Homo sapiens: one gene and its partners. The protein of the gene in region 1 interacts with the protein of each later gene in a biochemical or structural test. Each region holds a gene or a part of one and is shown on either strand. Other genes may lie near its edges.

Region 1 (7,478 bases):
GTCAATAAGTATTATATCATGAATATAGTCTTGAATTTATGAATCGTAATTAATCATTTTTCACTTGGTGACTAGGTTATGCCTAATATATTTTTTTAAATTATTAACATTCTTTTTTTTTTTTTTTTTTTTTTTGAGACAAGGTCTCACTCTATTGCCTGAGCTGGAATGCAGTAGCACAGTCATGGCTCACTGCAGCCTTGACCTCCCGCGCTTAGGTGATCCTCCCACAGCCTCCTGAGTAGCTGGGACTACAGGCGCAAGCCACCACATCTGGCTAATTTTTGCATTTTTTTGTAGAGATGGGGTTTTGCCATGGTGCCCGGGCTGGTCTTAAACTCCTGGGCTCAAGTGATCTGCCTGCCTCAGCCTCCTAAAGTGCTGGGATTGCAGGTGTGAGCCACCACGCCCGTCCTGAATGAAAATGCATCTTGTCCTGCTTAAGGCAGATTTCTAGATGTAACTAACATTGCTGGGTCAAATGGCATGCAAATTTTATATTTTGATCCACATTGCCAACTGCTCTTCCAGAAAGGTTCTACTTACATATACTCAAAATGGGTAAGATTTTCAGGCAGAAAGGAGGCATGAGTGTTGGGAAAGGATGTTCTAATTGGAGGAAAAAATTGTTCACAAAAGCATGGAGTTGGAGAAATAACATGTTTTGGAAAGAGGCTAACCTCAGACCAGTAGAGCAGAACTGTAGGGAATGATGCTGTGAAAAGGTAAATTGGAACAAGATTGTGGAGGCTGCAAATTTCGGCCTATTCCGTAGGCAATGGGAAACAACTGAAACTTGTTGAGAAGGTTTGACGTGATTTGTGAAACTAACTGTAGTAGTGGGTTCAAGGTAAGCAGGAGGGACACGGACTGACCAGGCCTAGCAGGCAGCCCTGCAAGGGAACAGATGTGAAATGACCGGAGCCAGATTACAAGGTCGGATTAGGGGAGGGGAGGGAGGAGTTTACATCTCTGCTGTCACCTGGAGTCTTAAAACCCTGGTAAGGCCACACTCCCAGAGCCTATCAGGCTGCTTCTCTAATGTGGTGCTTGATTTTAGAAGCAGGGGCTTGTGTTTTGCTTTGTCTTTTGATTGTAGTAAAATATATAGAACATAAAAAGTTTAACCTTTTTTTTTTTTTTGAGACGGAGTCTCAATCTGTCGCCCAGTCTGGAGTGCAATGGCGCGATCTTGGCTCACTGCAACCTCCGCCTCCCGGGTTCAAGCGACTCTCCTGCCTCAGCCTCCCGAGTAGCTGGGATTACAGGTGTGCACCACCACACCCGATTAATTTTTGTATTTTTAGTAGAGGCAGGGTTTCACCATGTTGGCCAGGATGGTCTCAAGCTCCTGACCGCAAGTGATCCGCCCGCCTCAGCCTCCCAAAGTGCTGGGATTACAGGCGTGAGCCACCAAGCCCTGCCTAACCATTTGTAAGTGTACAGTTCTGTGGCATTATGTACAGTCACAGTGTTGTGCAACCATCACCACCATCCTCTCCAGAACTCTCTTTCACCATCCCAGACGGAAACTTTCCCACTAAACAATAATAACCCATTCCTCCCTCCCCTCAGACCCTGGTAACAACAGTTTTTTCTGTCTCTATGAATCTGACAATTTTAGGGATCTCATATAAGTGGAATGGTCATACAGTATTCATCCTTATGTGTCTGGCGTATTTCACTTAGCATAAAGCCTTCAAGGTTCATCCAGGCACTGTGATTTGAAGAGCTGTGTTATTTCTTGCCAGCTCTGACACTGCAGAATGTCATATGGGAAGTGCAGTCCACTTGCCAGCATGACTCTTCCCAATCAGCTCCCTTCTAGGGAAGAAAAATAGTGGAAGTGCTTGCCTGTTATCTTTGCAGGGGGTGAGACAGGGTGTGGAGGGGAGGGGAGGGGAAGGGGTCTCTCCCAGGGAGAGTGGGCAAGTGACTTTCCCTGGCTGGAACATATGGACACATCACCACAATTAGTGTGTTTTCCAACAGTTGACCTTTTCAACAACCTGAAAAAGTATTGGGACTATCTAGACGCTTAAGCTTAGGGTGCCTATCAAACCTTCTGAGGATTGCTGAAACTAGAAAAAGGAGTTGAGAATTCAGTCCAACCCTCTGCTTTTTAGGAGGCCAGGAGAGGTGTGACTGAGAACATGGAGTTGATTGGTTACAAAGTCGTTACACTGTCCTGTGCTTTTTCTGTTGTTGTTTTTTCCCCCAGCTTTCCACACCTACTAGGGTGTTAGGCATATGGTGAAACTGGTGGGAGGTGAGGTAGGCAGACAACAGAACAGTGAAGAATGGCTGGTTTCAAGTGCCAAGTGCAGAGAAGGCAGGGTGAGTGGGTGGGAGGTGGAGAGCGCTGGGGATACTGTTTCTTGGTCATGTCTCAGATCACACAAAGAATCAAATAAGATTTTAGTTTCTCTATCAATACAGAGCTCTCTCTTAGGTCTCCATTTTGCATCCAGCAAAAGCAGCAGAACCCCCAGTTCACTATGGGGCCAGGGTGATTTAATAGAAAAACCCTCCCTTTTGAACAGCTCCTGCCCCTCAGTCCCAAGGTGCTTTCTTTGCTGGAGCAGAAGGTCTTGGAAATTTTAGGGAGCTACAATTGTGTTAGCCATTTTGTACCCAGAGCTGAATATCTGATCAAACATTTTACTGCAACCTGCTGGAGAAGAGGCCACGGATACCATCAGCTGTTCTCAGAAATGCACACTCCAGGGAGGAGTTGCTCAGCGCTGTTTTCTCTACATAGAAGATTGCAGGAAATGCCTCTCAGCTCCTACGTTTCTCCTACACAGATTCTCTAAAGCAGCTTCTGGGGTGTGGTCACTGCTTTTCTCTCCACTCCAATGGAGTGAGTGGGTAGGGAAATTTTTCCTCAGTATCATGGCTACAGCCAGGACAGCTTAGAAACCGTATTGCAGGTCCCAGGCACGGGGAAAGAAGCCAAACTGCAGAGGGCCAGGAAGCTCAGGGCCAGGTCTGGGCCCAGATTCTGGTGCAGTGTCCAATGACTTTATATTTATTTAAAGAGGAGAGCTGCTTGGTAACCAGGAGGCTGAAGCCTTCCTAAGCTGCAGAGCTCCCCGTCTGCCTGACTGCACAGGAATGATCTGGGTGTTACTCCCAGTGGCTGCGGCCCAGCTGTCACCGGAATGGGGATAGGGAAAGGGCTTCCTAATCCAGGGCTTCTGGCTACAGAGTTTAGAGCCAGGACCTTAAACTGCTAGGACTTTAAGTATCAGAAATTCTGAGAATCTTATTTTTCTCTTTCTGCACCCCAGCAGCCACCCGCATCAAAATGCCTCCCTTTCCTATTTGAAGGCAATACACATACGGTTGCAAAGGGAAGGTTCTGACTGCTGAGATGTAAATCCTAGCTCTTCCAATTGGTAGCTGCCTGACCTGGGCCAAGAGACTTAGCCTACATGAGCATTATGTAAGAGTGCCCATTTGTAAAATGGGAAAACATCTCATAAAATTATTGCAAAGATTAAGAAATGAAAAGGTAACACGAAATACTTAGCATAGTGCCTAGTACACAAGGCAAGTTCGATTAATTGTGCCAGAAAGAACCTTAATGTCTTGTTTATGAAATAGGATGAATGTAGCCTATTCCACTGGCGACCTGTGAGAAAGCTTTTGTTGCAGGAATGTAAGAAATTATTATTTTGCCGCTGCCGTTTCCTCCCCCATAATCTCCAAGAACATAAGAAATTAACTCTCCAAATCCCAGAATGACAGCTTTATGCCCCAAATTAGTCGACTTAATTTTTTTTCTGATTCGGATTTGGCCTTTTCCTCTCACCACCTCCTCAAACCCGGGGCCCCAAATCATCCGCGTCTTCTTGACCCCAGCCCCCACCGAATTAGGCTGACTTGGGACCCCAGCGCCAGCCTCCTCCTCGGGAAAGTGAGCAGGAAGAGACGCACTCGGGTGATCTCACCCTTTGGGACTGGGCGTTTTTCCGGCCGGGGCGCGCAGCATCCCCAGCCAGACTGCAGCGATACCCCCGCCCCGCCCTTCTCCGCAGTCCTGGAAGAGCTCCCAGGGCGGAGTGGTGCGATGCAGACGACTGTCCGCAGGGCGGGCGGTGGCGGGGCGCAAGCTGCGGGGAGGGAGGTGAGGCGGGAGCGTCTCTACCGCCAGGGCGTAGGCAGTGACCTCACTGCACCATCACCCCTCACCCCTTGCGCGCGCCCCATTTCCCCATCCTCCCGCGGCCCGCCCCTCGCTCACCTCTTCCCCCGCATTGTCGCTTCGGCTCCTTCCGGGATCGCTCGGCCCTTTCCGCCGGGCGGTCGGGCGGCGAGCCGGCGGGAGCACCGCCCCCTTTGCTCCGCCGGCGCGCTCCCCCACCCCTCGCGCAGCGCCGGGGCGCTTCCCCCGGCGCTCGCGCCCGCCCGCCGCGGGAGCGCGCGTAGCCGCTTATAAAAGAGGCGGGGCGCGCGCGTCGCCGCCACTACCCGCTGCGGAGTGAACGGTGTGGAGCGGAGGCCGCGGAGGCTCCTCGGTCCTTCAGCACCCCTCGGCCCGACGCACCCACGCCCCTCACCCCCCGAGAGCCGGTGAGAGGGGCAGCCGGGGAGCTCCGGGAGGGAGCGGGGCCCCGGGCAGCCGACCCCCGGGTGGGAGCTGGGCAGCTCTTCAGGCGGGGCGGGGCCGGCGCGCGGACAGGTGAGCCGGGCGGGCCGCGGGGCTGCCTCCATTCGGCTGAGTGGGGGAAGCCGCTGCCGCTGCTTTTGTGGCGCGTGGGCTGCGGAGGAGCAGCCGGGCCGAGGCTCGGCGCCGCCGCTGGAATGTCACTGACGGGGGGAGGGGGCGCGAGGCCGCCGGGTCCCTCCCAACCACCCCCAAGCCTGGCTGCGGCGCGGCCCTGCCCTGCCCCATCCGGCTGCGGCAGGTGGGTGGGGGCTCCCTCGTCGGGATCTTCGCCAGCCGCCTCCCTGCAGAACGCTCCCCGCACCGCCCCCGGTCCCTTCCCTCGGCCGGGAGCGACTTCTGCAGCTCGTTCTTCCGAATCGCACCAGCAATGCCGGCCAGCCGTAGAGGGAGGAAGAGCCCGGGGAGCCCGAGCATAGCGTAAACGGCTCTCTGACCTTAATTTCATCCTGCATGGCGAATCTCTGCCGTCTCTCTGAACGCAGAAGGGTCTGAGACTGGCCGTCTCCTTTTCTTTCCTTGTAATAAACATTTTTCTTTCTTCCTAGTTGTGATTTGCTTGTAAATAATAGGTAAATGCAGTGCTTGCATGGTATGTGGCTCAAATCAAATAACTTAATAGCTTAGCGTTCTTGTTTGTGTGTGTGTTTCCTGGGACTGGGTCTTTCGAGTCGAGATACAGTGTCAAAAATTCTACCATACCACTGTTGAATGATAGAACAGTCTTTTGTTTGAAAGCTGTCCCTGAGAATTTGATTAGACGCTTCCCCTAGAACATCGCTTTCAAAAGTCTCTGATGTACTAGAGTAAAATATATTTTAAATAAGCGCCTTGTTAAAAGTTGAATATGTTTTAAATGAAAAGCCTAAATAGCTCAGAAAGCTGGGTTGAGATGATGCTTGAACTGTTCCAACATCTAATCAGATCTCTTTTATATAATAGATCCTAAAATATTTAAGCCCTTTGTTCTGTCTTCATCATGTTATTTTAGAAAAACTTACCATCATGGCTGTTCGGGAAGAACAGGAGAGAGGCCATATGAAGTATTTTCATAATGTGTTGAGAAATTGCGTCGTCATAGCAATTGGCCTTAAGTAAAACAGAATGTATCAAAGATGGAAGGGTGGGGGTGTCTTGGAGCCAGGAAACAGAAAATCTTGGAAATAGCAGGAGGAACACTCAGCTATATGAAGCCATTGAGTCAAGGTTCCGACTCCTTAACTAGTCGTTTATTTTCCCTTTCATTGCAGCTAACTAATGTCTTAGATTTTGAAAGGTCAAATTGAATGTGCTGCGGAGGAAAAAAAAAGTGCTGCAGTAAAGGCCTCTGTGCAGGAAATTAACAATAAGCCTTTTTTAGTAACTGGGCCAATAATTACTCAAAGGGACCCTCAAAGTGTGTTAACTGTTATCCAGGGACCTTGATGGAGAGACTGGAAAGGAGGATTTTTGCTTCATCCTGGACAAGTGTGAAGCAGTTCTTATGGCAAACCATCAGCCTAGTAACTGATTCTCTGATATGCTTTGGTCTTGGCAGTGTGTTTTGTAGTCATCTAATAATTGGAGAAATCTGGTATGTCACAGGCTGCAGTGTAAGCCTGTCAAGCAATATGATGAAGAGGTGCACATGGGGAGAGCTGTTTTAAGTATGTCTTTTGGTTCCCTGGGTTAGAATTTTTTCTGCTTTTTCTTACCTGCCTTCATCCAAAGTTGGGGGTCAACTGCAGATCCTGAAAAGTGGATCTCAGGAATAGTCCCCCATGTCCTGTCACTGCTGAATCTACACTAAGAATGGACAAGTGTGTTCAAGGCTGGCCTGCCTTTGTAATCAGTCCTCCGTGGGCTATGCAGGGATCCCACTAGTTACGCACTCATCTGTTGCAGCATATCAGCTGCGGCTGTACTGTAGAAGAATGCAACGCCCTAGTGGCAAATGCTGACTCCAGGAATGCGGAGGAGGAGGAGGACTGCATAGCTCATCACTGGGGGCCACTTGACTGGAGCAGCTGTGCTGCAAACCATCACCTCTCTTCCACCTTTTTTGCATATTCCTCTTGTACCAATTTTGAACAGGAAATAGTATTTTGTAAAGTAAGTGTACTGGCAAACTAGGCCCAAGTCAGATCTTTGTGGCTTGAGTTCTACTTTGTGGCAATTTCATGAAGTCATGCTCTTTTATTGCTGAATGGAAGGGGATTTAGGAATCATCTTGTCCTGGGATCCTCAGGAGGAAGGCATGTTTAGTTTGAAAAAGTATATTCGGTATTATTACTTTAACAAGTGGGGAAATTGAGGCCCCAAGGAGAATGAGACTTGACCAGGGCAGCATATCTAGAAAGTAACTGCCAAGACCTGGGAACCTTGGTTCTCCTTCCACATTTTAAATCCCTTGTGGGATTTAGACGCTATACAGAATGTCAGAGAGAAGACACTGAAAAAATATCTGAAATTGGATTTTTAATCTGTATTCATATTTTTTAAATAATCTGTTTTCTTCATGATTTTGTTCCGTTTGCCCTTAGAAGCTTGTTATCTTGCTCTTCCCCCTCCCTCTTTAGACTCCACATTCCTCCATCATGTTGTCATCGTTTCGTAAACGCAGAGTCCAGGTATTTGACGAGCATGCAGAAAACGGGTTGCCTTTTTGGTTTTGCCTGGCTTGCAGTGAAGGCATATTCGTGTCAAAGAGGTTGAATGATCCAAAGAAAGGGGGAAAAAAACCCTGCCTGCATGACGTTTCTGTTAAACAAATTGGTTAGGATTTGTTTGGGGTTTTTTGGTGTTAAATTATCAGAAGTATTAGTAA
Region 2 (3,785 bases), on another chromosome or scaffold:
TCTATACCATTTATGTGTACTAATTATCTTTTTGCTTAATTTTCTTAATTTCATGTGTAATTGAACATTAGTTATCTCTTTTTTGTAAATTGCAACTGAAAATGTGTGTTTTGGGTAATTTTAAAAAATCACAGGTCTGAGAAAAAGAAGATAGATCATGGTCTGAAAGCAAGGGAATAAAACACACGGTGTATTTTACAAGAACACATTCAAAATACATAAACAAGAAATATTGAAAGACTGTTCTTATCACAAGGAAATCATAAATGTTTAAGGAGAGGGATATCCTAATTACCCTGATTTGATCACTACACTATGTATACATGTATTGAAACATCACATAGTACACCCATAAATATGTACAATTATGTGTTGATCATAAATTTTAAAATGGAAAGATTAATATGAAATGCAGAAAATAAGACATTCTAAATGCATAATAAAGCTATAAAAATATATACAAAAAGCAGTTGCTTGCATGGTGCAGCTGCACATTAGAAATGTGCTTGTAATTGAAACGTTCATTTTTATAGTATTCAGGAATAGTGTGTTGATCAAAGAATTTTCATTGTATCTCAGGGAAGACTGGGTTGACCTAACTTATAGATTACAGAGCTATAATCTCTGTAATCAGAAGCAATGTAACAAAAATATGCAGGTCTGAAATGGACATATATAACCAGGCCTCACTTCACTGCCTAAACCAATTACCCAGTGAGTAGCAGCCACATTTTGAAGTCTTTTCAAGTAAGGAGGCTCAAGCTGAATGACCTCCACTCACCTGTTCCCACCCCTTATCCCTCAGTAATTCCTGACAATCACATTACGAGACCAAGGGTGCTTAAGATTAGTCACTGTGATACCAGACAGTCTTGCTGGCTTCTTCACTTGTTATGAAATATTTAAAACAAAAACTTTAAGACAGCCATATTCATTCAGAACATGTATAAACTATAAGGCATGGACTATCCAGTGTTTCAGAGGTCCGAACTGGTTTTCTGTTTTCTGCTATAACATAGGTTATTTATTCATTTTCCTCATGTGCATGTTTGAATAAGAAGAAAATTTTGTGGTGTAAATGTATGTATGTTTGTGTATGTATATACATGTTTGTATGTCATGTATATATACATAACACATACTGAATGGTACAGGGATTGTAAGTATTAATGTTCTACAATATTAGATTACACATAAATTATGACTGATCTTATGACAGAATAGAAGCCAATTAACTACAAGTTATATTTTTAGTGCAAATTCATTTTTCTCAAACACTGTCAGTATTTTTAATTGAGTCCTTAATTACTTTGAACATGATTTTAATTTACTACTGTCTAGAAATTAGTGGTGTTAATAATCTCATGTGTCATAGGTAAGACAGGTAAAATTACCACTTCAAAGCTTTAATGAACAAGGAAAAATCATAAACTTCTGTGTAATTACAAATGTGCAATCTAATAAAATACATCAGAACTAAGCACACTGCTTTGGAACTTCCCATCAAGACTTTCTGCCTTGAATGCCATGAAGTTATCTTACATGCATCAAATCACCTGTTTGGCCTTCACTCGTTATTTCTCAGGCTGCTCAGAATATTGACCTCCATTAACAGTTGGCCAAAAAGGTTAGCTAGAAGGCCACCCTCCATTGTGTATTTCTGAGGTTGTCATTATGAGTTTTAATTTATCATCTAAAGAAATATGTCCTAAGATGAAAATGTTACCATTACAGCTTGATCTCTCACCCTCTTCTCTTGTATTATTTCTTAATAGGTGTGTCAAGGATGCCACAATGCCATCGACCCAGAAGTGCAGCGGGTGACCTATAACAATTTCAGCTGGCATGCATCCACAGAGTGCTTTCTGTGCTCTTGCTGCAGCAAATGCCTCATTGGGCAGAAGTTCATGCCAGTAGAAGGGATGGTTTTCTGTTCAGTGGAATGTAAGAAGAGGATGTCTTAGGAGGAGGGCACCCAGAAGTATCGAGCCATAGCTATCCAAAGTGGTCTGCATTTCTACTGTAAAATGCAATTTGAAAAAAATAAAACGCAAAAAAAGAAACTGTAAAGGAAACCAAGAGATTTTGTTTAATTTTTTTGGCCATTTTTTCTTCATCAATTTTTTTTCGGTCTCAACTTTTAAACTTGGTTTAAGCATTTGATTTGTAAAACAGTAAATAATTGTATCTTTCCATAGCTTTTCAAATGTGAAATCATTTTTGGAAGCTTGGATCTCATTAAACTTCATGTCTCTATTCCATTTGTGCCACACACTTAAAAGTTAGTGTACTGAATGGAAAGATGAGCATTCCTAGTTCTACACTTCTTTTTTCCCCCTCATGTGTAAAATGAAAAGAAAACTAAATTTGCCCTAATACCAAGGCGCTACGTTTATTGCCTCGTCTTATTCACTGACCTTTGTAATGATACACAGTGAATTCTTTTTGACAAAGAGAAATGCAGTGTAGTATGCAGAGCTGCTGTTTTAATGCCTATGCATTTACTCTTTCCTGATTTAGGCAGAGGTGGCATTTTCTTTATTGCATTTCTCTATTTTTTTAATGTACCCTACCTTCAGTATTCTCTTTGTAAGTTGGTGACTTGCATCTGTGGCCTTGAATATTTTATTATCACATGTGGCATAACAGTATCCACACTTTTTAGTTCTTTATTTTTTTTTTTTTATTTTGAGCAATTCTCCTGCCTCAGCCTCCCAAATAGCTGGGATTACAGGTGCATGCCACCACACCCAGCTAATTTTTGTATTTTTAGTAGAGACAGGTTTTCACCATGTTAGCCAGGCTGGTCTCAAACTCCTGACCTCAGATGATCCGCCTGCCTTGGCCTCCCAAAGTGCTGGGATTACAGGTGTGGGAGCCACCATGCCTGACCCACACACTTTTTACTTGTATAGATGATTTTTGGCTTGGACATAAAAGCCAAGCCACCCATTTGCTTTTAATCCAAAGAACATGTATAGTTTTTGTACCCAGAGACTATGATTTATATTGATTGCACTTGCCTGCCATGATTTAGATAAGATTTTTTTTGCATGGTTTTTATTCTTTCCTAATGGATCCTGTTTTATAATACTTCCAAGCCTGTCCATGGATATATCAAATGTCTTCACTTGTATATTTTCATGGCTAGGTATTTCTAATGTTTATTCTTCCCTGTGTACTTCTACACATAGCTATGCACTATGAAAATTAAATGGAATGAATGATATGTATATTACTCAAAATAAAGTTTCTTTCACTTTAATAATCATTGTATCTTTTTATTCATATCCTTTTTTGAGTGAAAAATGCTTCTGCAACTAAGCATGTGTTACAGCAGGGGGCGATGTCTCCAAGGATAAAAATTACCCAAACGAAAATAAAAGTCTGCCTCTGACAGGACAGCACAGAATCTAGATGTTTCATTATGGAGAAAAGATAAGGTTTATGAAACTTTCAAATCAGGACTTTTAAGTTTGGTCATGCAAGAGTTTTTTTCTTTTTCAAAGAAAGGGAAAGTAATTTTAATTAAAATTTGGGAGAGCTTATTTTCTATTCAGTTGGATCTAACAAGCCTTTTATACTTGGGTTTCAACTCTGGTTTCTTTATATGTAAAAAATATTAAAAGAAGAATTTTTTCATGGAAACTTATCGTGAGACAGAAAGCAAATGGGGAATAGTGGTAGACTCATGCTTCCTAATGTTAGCAGGCCATAATACTTTCTCCCTCAGTCTACAATTATTTCTGTCATAGTGGGAGTTGCAGTTTTCTCTGATACATACC
Region 3 (7,604 bases), on another chromosome or scaffold:
GGTGGGAGGATCACATCACTTGAGCCCAGGAGGTCGAGGCTGCAGTGAGCTGTGGTCATGCTACTGTACACCAGCCTGGGTAACAGAGTGAGACCACTGTCTCAAAAAAAAAAAAAAGTGTACGTATAAGAAAAGGTACTAGAAGGGAAGGTCCCAAAATATTGATGGTAGTTATTTTTGACTGGTGGCTTTATAGTGACTTACATTTTTTCTTGTGTTTCTAAATTTTCTATGAACAATTCAAGTACTACTAGTAAAATTAATCCCCATCCCACTGTATGAATGGTAATTCCCATCCCATTATAGCCTGTTTGATTTATCATTTGTGTTTACAAGTCTAAAATAACTGTGATTTTTTATCCTGCCATAGGCAGGATGGCAAGCACTACTCTTCATATACTTTTGGTACCAGCATCAGTTTTCATTCAACAGTACTGTTCAGAACACTTTGTTGGTGGGCCCAGCTTTTCAAAGCCCTCTTCAATCTCTTGCCACCCTCCACAACAGACACAGGGCTTCAGGCCAGCTGTGTCCCTAATCCGCCCACGTCCCAGATTTGGGTATGGTTTCCCCGCCCCTCCCCGCTTTCTTCCAGTCTCATCTCTACCAGGTCATCTGAGGCCTCATCTACACTCCCTGGCCTTCCCCACTGGTCACCACCTAATTTCACCATCTAATTTCACCCTCTTATGTGCAGCTGGTGTTTGCTTTTGCTTGGGCTCAGTTTGCTGTGGGGAAGGATTAAGACCCTTTCACACTGTCTTTTTTTTTCTTTTTCTCTTTTGCTTACTGCCCTTGACTGCTCCAGGGGCTAACAGGCAGCTAGCGGGGCCTGTATTCCCTAGGAAGGAACACAAGGGGTAGGGGGTGGGGAGGTAATGGTGGGCTCAGCTGGCAGGCGAGATAGAGATGGTCCTTAGGGACCCCATCCTGGGGCTTGGGGCATAGCACAGCTGCCACCCAGATGTGAGCATGGAGCAGAGCTGTTTCTGCCTTGGAAATTAGCCTCAGAGACGGTGCTTGGGACCTTTACCCTTGGTACCTGATGGCAGTCTCTGCAGGGTGAGCTGGGACTGGATACCTGGTTTGCAGAAGTCTGAGAGGGCAGATGGGCCCAGGAGTAAAGGTAGTTTTTCCACCTTCATATTAGGCATTACTTATACCCCCACATCTTCCTATGTGATAGGCCTGGCAACACTCAGAGATTGGGCACTTAGCCTAACAACTGAAGATGTGTGTCTAAAATAACAAAAATTCCTCATGTGTGGATAGTACTTTACAGTTTACAAAGCCCTTTCATCTCCAGGCTAAGAATTAAAAGCCAGCACTGGAATTCAGGTCTTTCAGATTCTAAAGCCTGAGTCAATGGATTATGGTGTGTTATTGCATGGCACTCTGAATTTCAGAGTAGTTCATACCTGCCTTGTGTCTAGCCTTTTGCTGTTAGCCTGAGACCTCTACTTATTTGCAGAGTAAGGATTATTAAATGCTACATATTCTTTGCATCCAATTAGATGTGCCATTGGCTAGCACTTCATGGCATAGAGAATACTGGGCTTTCATGAATCTGAATTTGCTGGATAACTTGGTGGTGGTGGAGATGGTAAACCACTGGTAATTGGTCTTCTATACTCATCCTTCAAGGTACCAGATTTTCCTGTCTGATTGGTGAAGGAAGCCTGAGGCACAGAGGTGGTAGGACTAGAACTCTGAATAAAAAGCACAGCTGAACCTGAGGACTTGAGGCAGGAGACCAGAGTATTTAAGAACAGGTGTGGCCAGGCATGGTGGCTCATGCCTGTAATCCCAGCACTTTGGGATGCTGAGGTGGGTGGATCACCTGAGGCTGGGGGTTCGAGACCAGCCTGACCAACATGGAGAAACCCCATCTCTATTAACAATACAAAATTAGCCAGGCGTGGTGCACATGCCTGTAATCCCAGCTACTCACGAGGCTGAGGCAGGAGAATCGCTTGAACCTGGGAGGCAGAGGTTGCAGTGAGGTGAGGCGAGATCGTGCCATTGCACTCCAGCCTGGGCAAAAAGAGCGAAACCCCTTCTCAAAAAAAAACAGGTGCTTCACCCCTCATACACAGAATGACCCTGGCCAAGTCACCTGACCTCACTAAGACTCAGTTTCCTTATATGTAAAATGAGGATGTTCATTAACTCATTCAACAAATATTTATTGAGCGTATACTGTTCTGGGAGATGAATACAGATACAGTCCCTGCCTTCCTGAGCTTGCAGTCTAGTGGGTCTAGATTACAGCAATTTATTTGAGAGGCACAATAAATAATAAATATATAGTAGAAAGTCAAGTAGGGTAAGTGCTATGAAGCAAATTAAAGCAGGATAAGGGTGTTTGAGTGGAGGGTGTTTTAGATGGTATAGTCAGGTGGTTTTCAAGGGGTTTTATGATGTTTCAAATGGACAATTTACATAACGTGCTCAGCTCAGTGCTAACAACAATTGCATGCTTAACAAATATATTATTATATTTGCCAGTTCCACACCTCTCAGTCCACATTTTAGTCTCTGAATAGTAATAATAATTAACACACATAGATCTTACTATGAGCTAGGCACTGCTCTAAGTCCTTTACATATTTTAACTCATTTAATTCTGTTTTCCTTTTTCTTTTTTTTGAGATGGAGTCTTGCTCTTGTCACCCAACCTGGAGTTCAATGGCATGATCTCGGCTCTCTGCAACCTCCACCTCCTGGGTTCAAGTGATTCTCCTGCCTCAACCTCCGAGAATAACTGAGATTACAGGTGCCTGCCACCAGGCCCAGCTAAGTTTTGTATTTTTAGTAGAGATGGGGTTTCACCATTTGGCCAGGCTGGTCTCGAACTCCTGACCTCAGGTGATCCGCCTGCCTCAGCCTCCCAAAGTTCTGGGATTACAGGCATGAGCCACCATGCCTGGCCTAATTCTTACAGTAACTCTGTGAGGTGGGAACTATTATTATCCTTCTCCCTCCCCCAACCCTCGTTTTTGTTTTTAGGGATGGAGTCTTGCTCTGTTGCCCAAGCTGGAGTGGAATGGCATGATCCTAGCTCACTGTGGCCTTGAACTCCTGTGCTTGAGCAATCCTCCCACCTCAGCCTCCCACTATAGGTGGGAGTCCCAGCTACTTGGACATATTATCCCCTTTTATGGTGTTGAAAAATGAGGCACAGCCGGGCGCGGTGGCTCAAGCCTGTAATCCCAGCACTTTGGGAGGCCGAGAAGGGCGGATCACGAGGTCAGGAGATCGAGACTAACACGGTGAAACCCCGTCTCTACTAAAAATACAAAAATTAGCTGGGCGTGGTGGTACACGCCTGTAGTCCCAGCTACTCGGGAGGCTGAGGCAGGAGAATCGCTTGAACCCGGGAGGCAGAGGTTGCAGTGAGCCGAGATTCCGGCACCGCACTCCAGCCTGGTGACAGAGCGAGACTCCGTCTCAAATAAATAAATAAATAAATAAAAGAAAAATGAAAATCAAACCATTAGAAAAGGCTGGAGACTAAGAATTGAACCCAGGCAATCTGTTTCCAGAGGCTGTGCTGGGATCGTGAAGGGGCTGTGATTAGATATCAGGAATGTCTAGCTGGCATCTACAGACTCTGCTGTCAGATGGCCTGGCTTCTTATCCTGTCAGTTTTAAGTCTCTCTGCTTCAGTTTCCTCATCTCTAAAATAGAACACCAGATCCTATCTTACCTTCTAGGTATCATGCTTAAAACAAAAGCCTTCTTTCTGCACTGTGGGTCCGAAGCCTGTTCACAGACCAGCCTAGCAGGGAGTAGGAAGGGTCAAGGGGTCTCTGACACTTCTGGAAGGAAATAAAGACACACTAAGCAATTGTCAGAGCAACCCTCAGTTCATCTGGAGACCAGACCTCGGAAGCTAGGTCTTTATAATGTTGAGATTGCCAGGGGGGAATTAGGAGATCCTTAAATGCAGAAGACAGGTTCAATCTTGGCGTGGTCTCAACACTTAGCTTCCATTTCAGGCCTTACACAGCTGGCACGAGAGGTAAAGTCTCATCGAATGTCAGGGTTGGAAGGGCGCCTAGAGACAGTCAAACTAGTGGATGGGGAAACTGAGGTACAGAGAAGCTGAGTGACTTACCCGAGGTCACTAAGCGTTTAGGGGGAGTCAGTTGGGGTAGCCTGGCTACAACCTCTACGCGAGTTACTTCCCTGAGGCTTCCAAATCTCGGCCTCTTACTTGGAAGGAGGAAAGGGCCTCACCGTCCAGGGCTCTAGCTGCCTCATGCCCCACGTGGGTGCTGCGGGATCCCGGAACACCCCGGCTCCAGACCGGGTTCGACTTGCGCGTGCGCACACGCGGCCAGCCCCTTGCCTTTTCCTCTCTCTTTTTCGTTCCCCTCTCCTCTCCTTACCGGCCTAGGGGAGGGGGGAAACAAGGGGAGCTAGAAGTTGGCCTCAGCCAATGGGCGGACGGGCCGCGGGCCCGGCCCCCTCCTTCCCTCCGGCGCGGCCCAATAGAAATTTACTACAATGTTGTGGCGAACTGAGGGGGAGGGGCGCGGGCCGGCGGGCGGGCTGCGGGCCGGGCTGGCCTCGCCTCGCAGAGGGAAGGCGGGAGGGCGCGCGCCAGGGTCGCTCGCTCGCTCCCTCCCTCCGCTGGTGCGTTTAGTCAGTCAGCCAGCAGCAGCCGGCGGGCCCGCGAGCCGCAGAGGGCCCGAGCCTCGGACGCCGGCGCCTCCTCCTGCCATTGTTCGTCGGGCTGCAGCAGTGGCGGGCGCAGGAGCCCGGCCCCGGAGCCACCGGTGAGGCGAGGCGGCGGCGGCGGCGCGGGAGCCGGGGCGGTGGGCGTGGAGCTGTCCCCGTGGGGACGGTCCTGGCGGCCGCGGCGGCGCTGCAGCCTCTTTGTCTGCAACCCCCGACAGGCCCCGGGCCGGGGCGCGGGCTCTCCCGCGGAGGAGCCTCGTGTGCACGCCGAGTCGCCAGCCGGGACGCGGCCCGAGGAGCGAGGGGCGGGCCAGAGCCGCTGAGGAAAGGGGAAGGGGTTGCGTCGCGGGAGTGTTGGAAAGTTAGGCTTGAGATGTATTTTTGACGGTCCCCTCGGGTGCGTCAATCACGGTGCGGTGTGCAGGAGCCTCGGGAGGAAACCAAATGCGGAGAATCGCAGGTTTCAGACGGTGAAGGTGTTGCGTGCAGCCGCGGAGCGATTTCTTCCTGGCGAGGGAGCTGGGCTGTCTGCAGAAGTCAGGCGGAATCTGAGGACTGCAGGGAGCCCTGGCAAGACTTCGCAGGCCTTCCCGCCACCGACGCCTGCATCATTGAAAAACATGTTCCCCCTTAGTCTTCTGGGTTCCCAGCGAGCAGAGGGTTAAATCTATTCTCTCAGCGTCGTGACCTCCTTTTTCAGTTCGCGCATCTGTCGGCTTGGAAATCTTCCTCCGTGCTCGCTGGGCTGCTGTACCTGTGGAGAGGCCGGGTCTGGGCTCGCCCTCCGAGATTGACCAGCAGGCCATTATTCCTGGGGAGGTTTTGCCAAAACAGGTCATGCTCCCCAAGAACAGGCATTCTCTTGAGAAAAAGTGATCTCACGTGAAACAGATTGCTGATGGACTGGTTTCTGGCCACATGATAGCGACTGTCATCCTGTTGTTTCTTTAACTGTACCCTGTACCCTGCCATAAATGACTAGTCTGTGGAGACTTGTTTTTTGGCATGTAGTTGTTCATTAGGAGATAGTTTTTTCTTTTTCCTTTTTTTTTTTCAGATGCTTTTTTTTTTTTTTTTTTTTGTAGTCTGGGTGATTTCACAGCTGCTATTTTCTTCCCTTCTGTTTTTAGGGAAAATTGCAAGAAATGGTTGTGTCTTGTGTCTTGGATATTATTATAGTGGATTTATACTCTCTTGAGGATGTACTGTAGTCAATGCTGTTGCTCATTGTTGTTTTCTGTATTCTCAGTCCTGGCAAAAATTTTAGTTGGTTTGATCCCTTTAATCAAAAGCAGGATATATAGCCCGTATATGTTTCTTCCCGTCCCAGTTTTGTTAATGTAGCACTAACCCCTACTTTTTATGGAAACTTGATGTACTCTTCATTTTCCTTTTCTGTAAATTGAAAGTGTAATCAGTTCTTCGCCAGTTGTAAAATTTTTGGTTTGGGGTGTTATTAATATAATCCATGTAGCGTACATGCTATCTGGCGTACAGTAAGCACTCAATAAATGGCAGATTCAAAAATAGATGTAATAACTGAACACCAGATTGCCTTAGAATCAAAGTAGTTAATTCAGTGTGCTTTCTATAAGAAGCTTATAATTAAGGTAAATATAGATATTATTCATACACCTGGGGAAACAAGTACAGTATATCTTTGGCACTATTAAAAGTGAACTATGTCGGGCACGGTGGCTCACGCCTGTAATCCCAGCACTTTGGGAGGCCAAGGCGGGTGGATCACTTGAGGTCAGGAGTTCGAGACTAGCCTGGCCAGCATGGTGAAACCCCATCTGTACTAAAAATGCAAAAAAGTAGCTGGGTGTGGTGGCATGTGCCTGTAATCCCACCTACTCAGTAGGTGGAGGCAGGAGAATCGCTTGAACCTAGGAGGCGGAGGTTGCAGTGAGCCGAGATTGCACCACTGCACTTCAACCTGGGCAACAGAGCAAAACTGTCTCAAAAAAAGGTGAACTCATTGTTGAACATAAGTTCAGAATGCCAACCTTCTGATTCCTCTGTCTTCTACCAACAAAACTATACATTTTTCCTTGTATGTTTGAATTCAGGCTTAGAAATAAATGTTTTTAATCTGTAGGTTTTACCAAAATTCTCCCAACAATTTTTTTTTTTTTTAAACAGGGTCTCATTCTGTCACCCAGGCTGGAGTGCAGTGGCATGATCACGGCTCACTGCAGCCTTAAACTCCTGGGCTCAAGTGATCCTCCTGCCTCAGCCTCCCTAGTAGCTGGGACTATAGGCGTGTGCCCCCATGCTTGGCTAATGTCTTTTTATTTTTTGTAGAGACAGTCTCACTATGTTGCCTAGGGTGGTCTTGAATTCCTGGACTCAAGAGATCCTCCTCCCTGGGCCTCCCAAAGTGCTGGGATTACAGATGTGAGCCACCTCACCCGGCCTCTCCCAACATTTATTAAGTGTTTTATACCAAATGTCTTGTAAGTTCTTATGCAATATGGCTACAATCTACCTTTCCACCTTTATTCTCCTTATTTTTTGTATTGTGCAACCAAATAGAACTACTCTGTAATAACCCTTGCTTTGCCATCTCTCTCTCTGTGTGTGTGTGTGTGTGTATGTGTGTGTGTGTATTTATTTATTTATTTTGAGATGGAGTCTTACTCTGTCACACAGGCTGGAGTGCAGTGGCATGATCTCAGCTCACTGCAACCTCCACCTCCTGGATTTAAGCAATTCTCCTGGCTCAGGCTCCCAAGTAGCTGGGATTACAGGCGCTTGCCATCATGCCCACCTAACTTTTGTATTTTTAGTAGAGTTGGGGTTTCACCATGTTGGTCAGTATGGTCTCGATTTCTTGACCTCGTGATCCACCCGCCTCGGCCTTCCAAAGTGCTGGGATTACAGGCATGAGCCACCGTGCCTGGCCCTGTATACAT

What was found. Proteins that work in one complex are often made in the same cells at the same time.
Region 2: the proteins of SPTAN1 (region 1) and TES form a complex in vitro, tested with the Homo sapiens proteins (one study listed by BioGRID).
Region 3: the proteins of SPTAN1 (region 1) and EPB41 form a complex in vitro, tested with the Homo sapiens proteins (one study listed by BioGRID).

Annotation. Positions count from the first base shown.
Region 1 is NC_000009.12:128,548,119-128,555,596, forward strand, and holds the start of SPTAN1 (spectrin alpha chain, non-erythrocytic 1), read left to right. Parts: upstream 1-4,468; 5' UTR 4,469-4,578; exon of another isoform or gene 4,579-5,193; intron 5,194-7,230; exon of another isoform or gene 7,231-7,248; coding exon of another isoform or gene 7,249-7,281; intron 7,282-7,478. UniProt on the Homo sapiens protein: Fodrin, which seems to be involved in secretion, interacts with calmodulin in a calcium-dependent manner and is thus candidate for the calcium-dependent movement of the cytoskeleton at the membrane.
Region 2 is NC_000007.14:116,255,519-116,259,303, forward strand, and holds the end of TES (testin), read left to right. Parts: exon of another isoform or gene 1-1,775; coding exon 1,776-1,964; 3' UTR 1,965-3,265; downstream 3,266-3,785. UniProt on the Homo sapiens protein: Scaffold protein that may play a role in cell adhesion, cell spreading and in the reorganization of the actin cytoskeleton. Plays a role in the regulation of cell proliferation. May act as a tumor suppressor. Inhibits tumor cell growth.
Region 3 is NC_000001.11:28,909,985-28,917,588, forward strand, and holds the start of EPB41 (protein 4.1), read left to right. Parts: upstream 1-4,584; 5' UTR 4,585-4,784; intron 4,785-7,604. UniProt on the Homo sapiens protein: Protein 4.1 is a major structural element of the erythrocyte membrane skeleton. It plays a key role in regulating membrane physical properties of mechanical stability and deformability by stabilizing spectrin-actin interaction. Recruits DLG1 to membranes.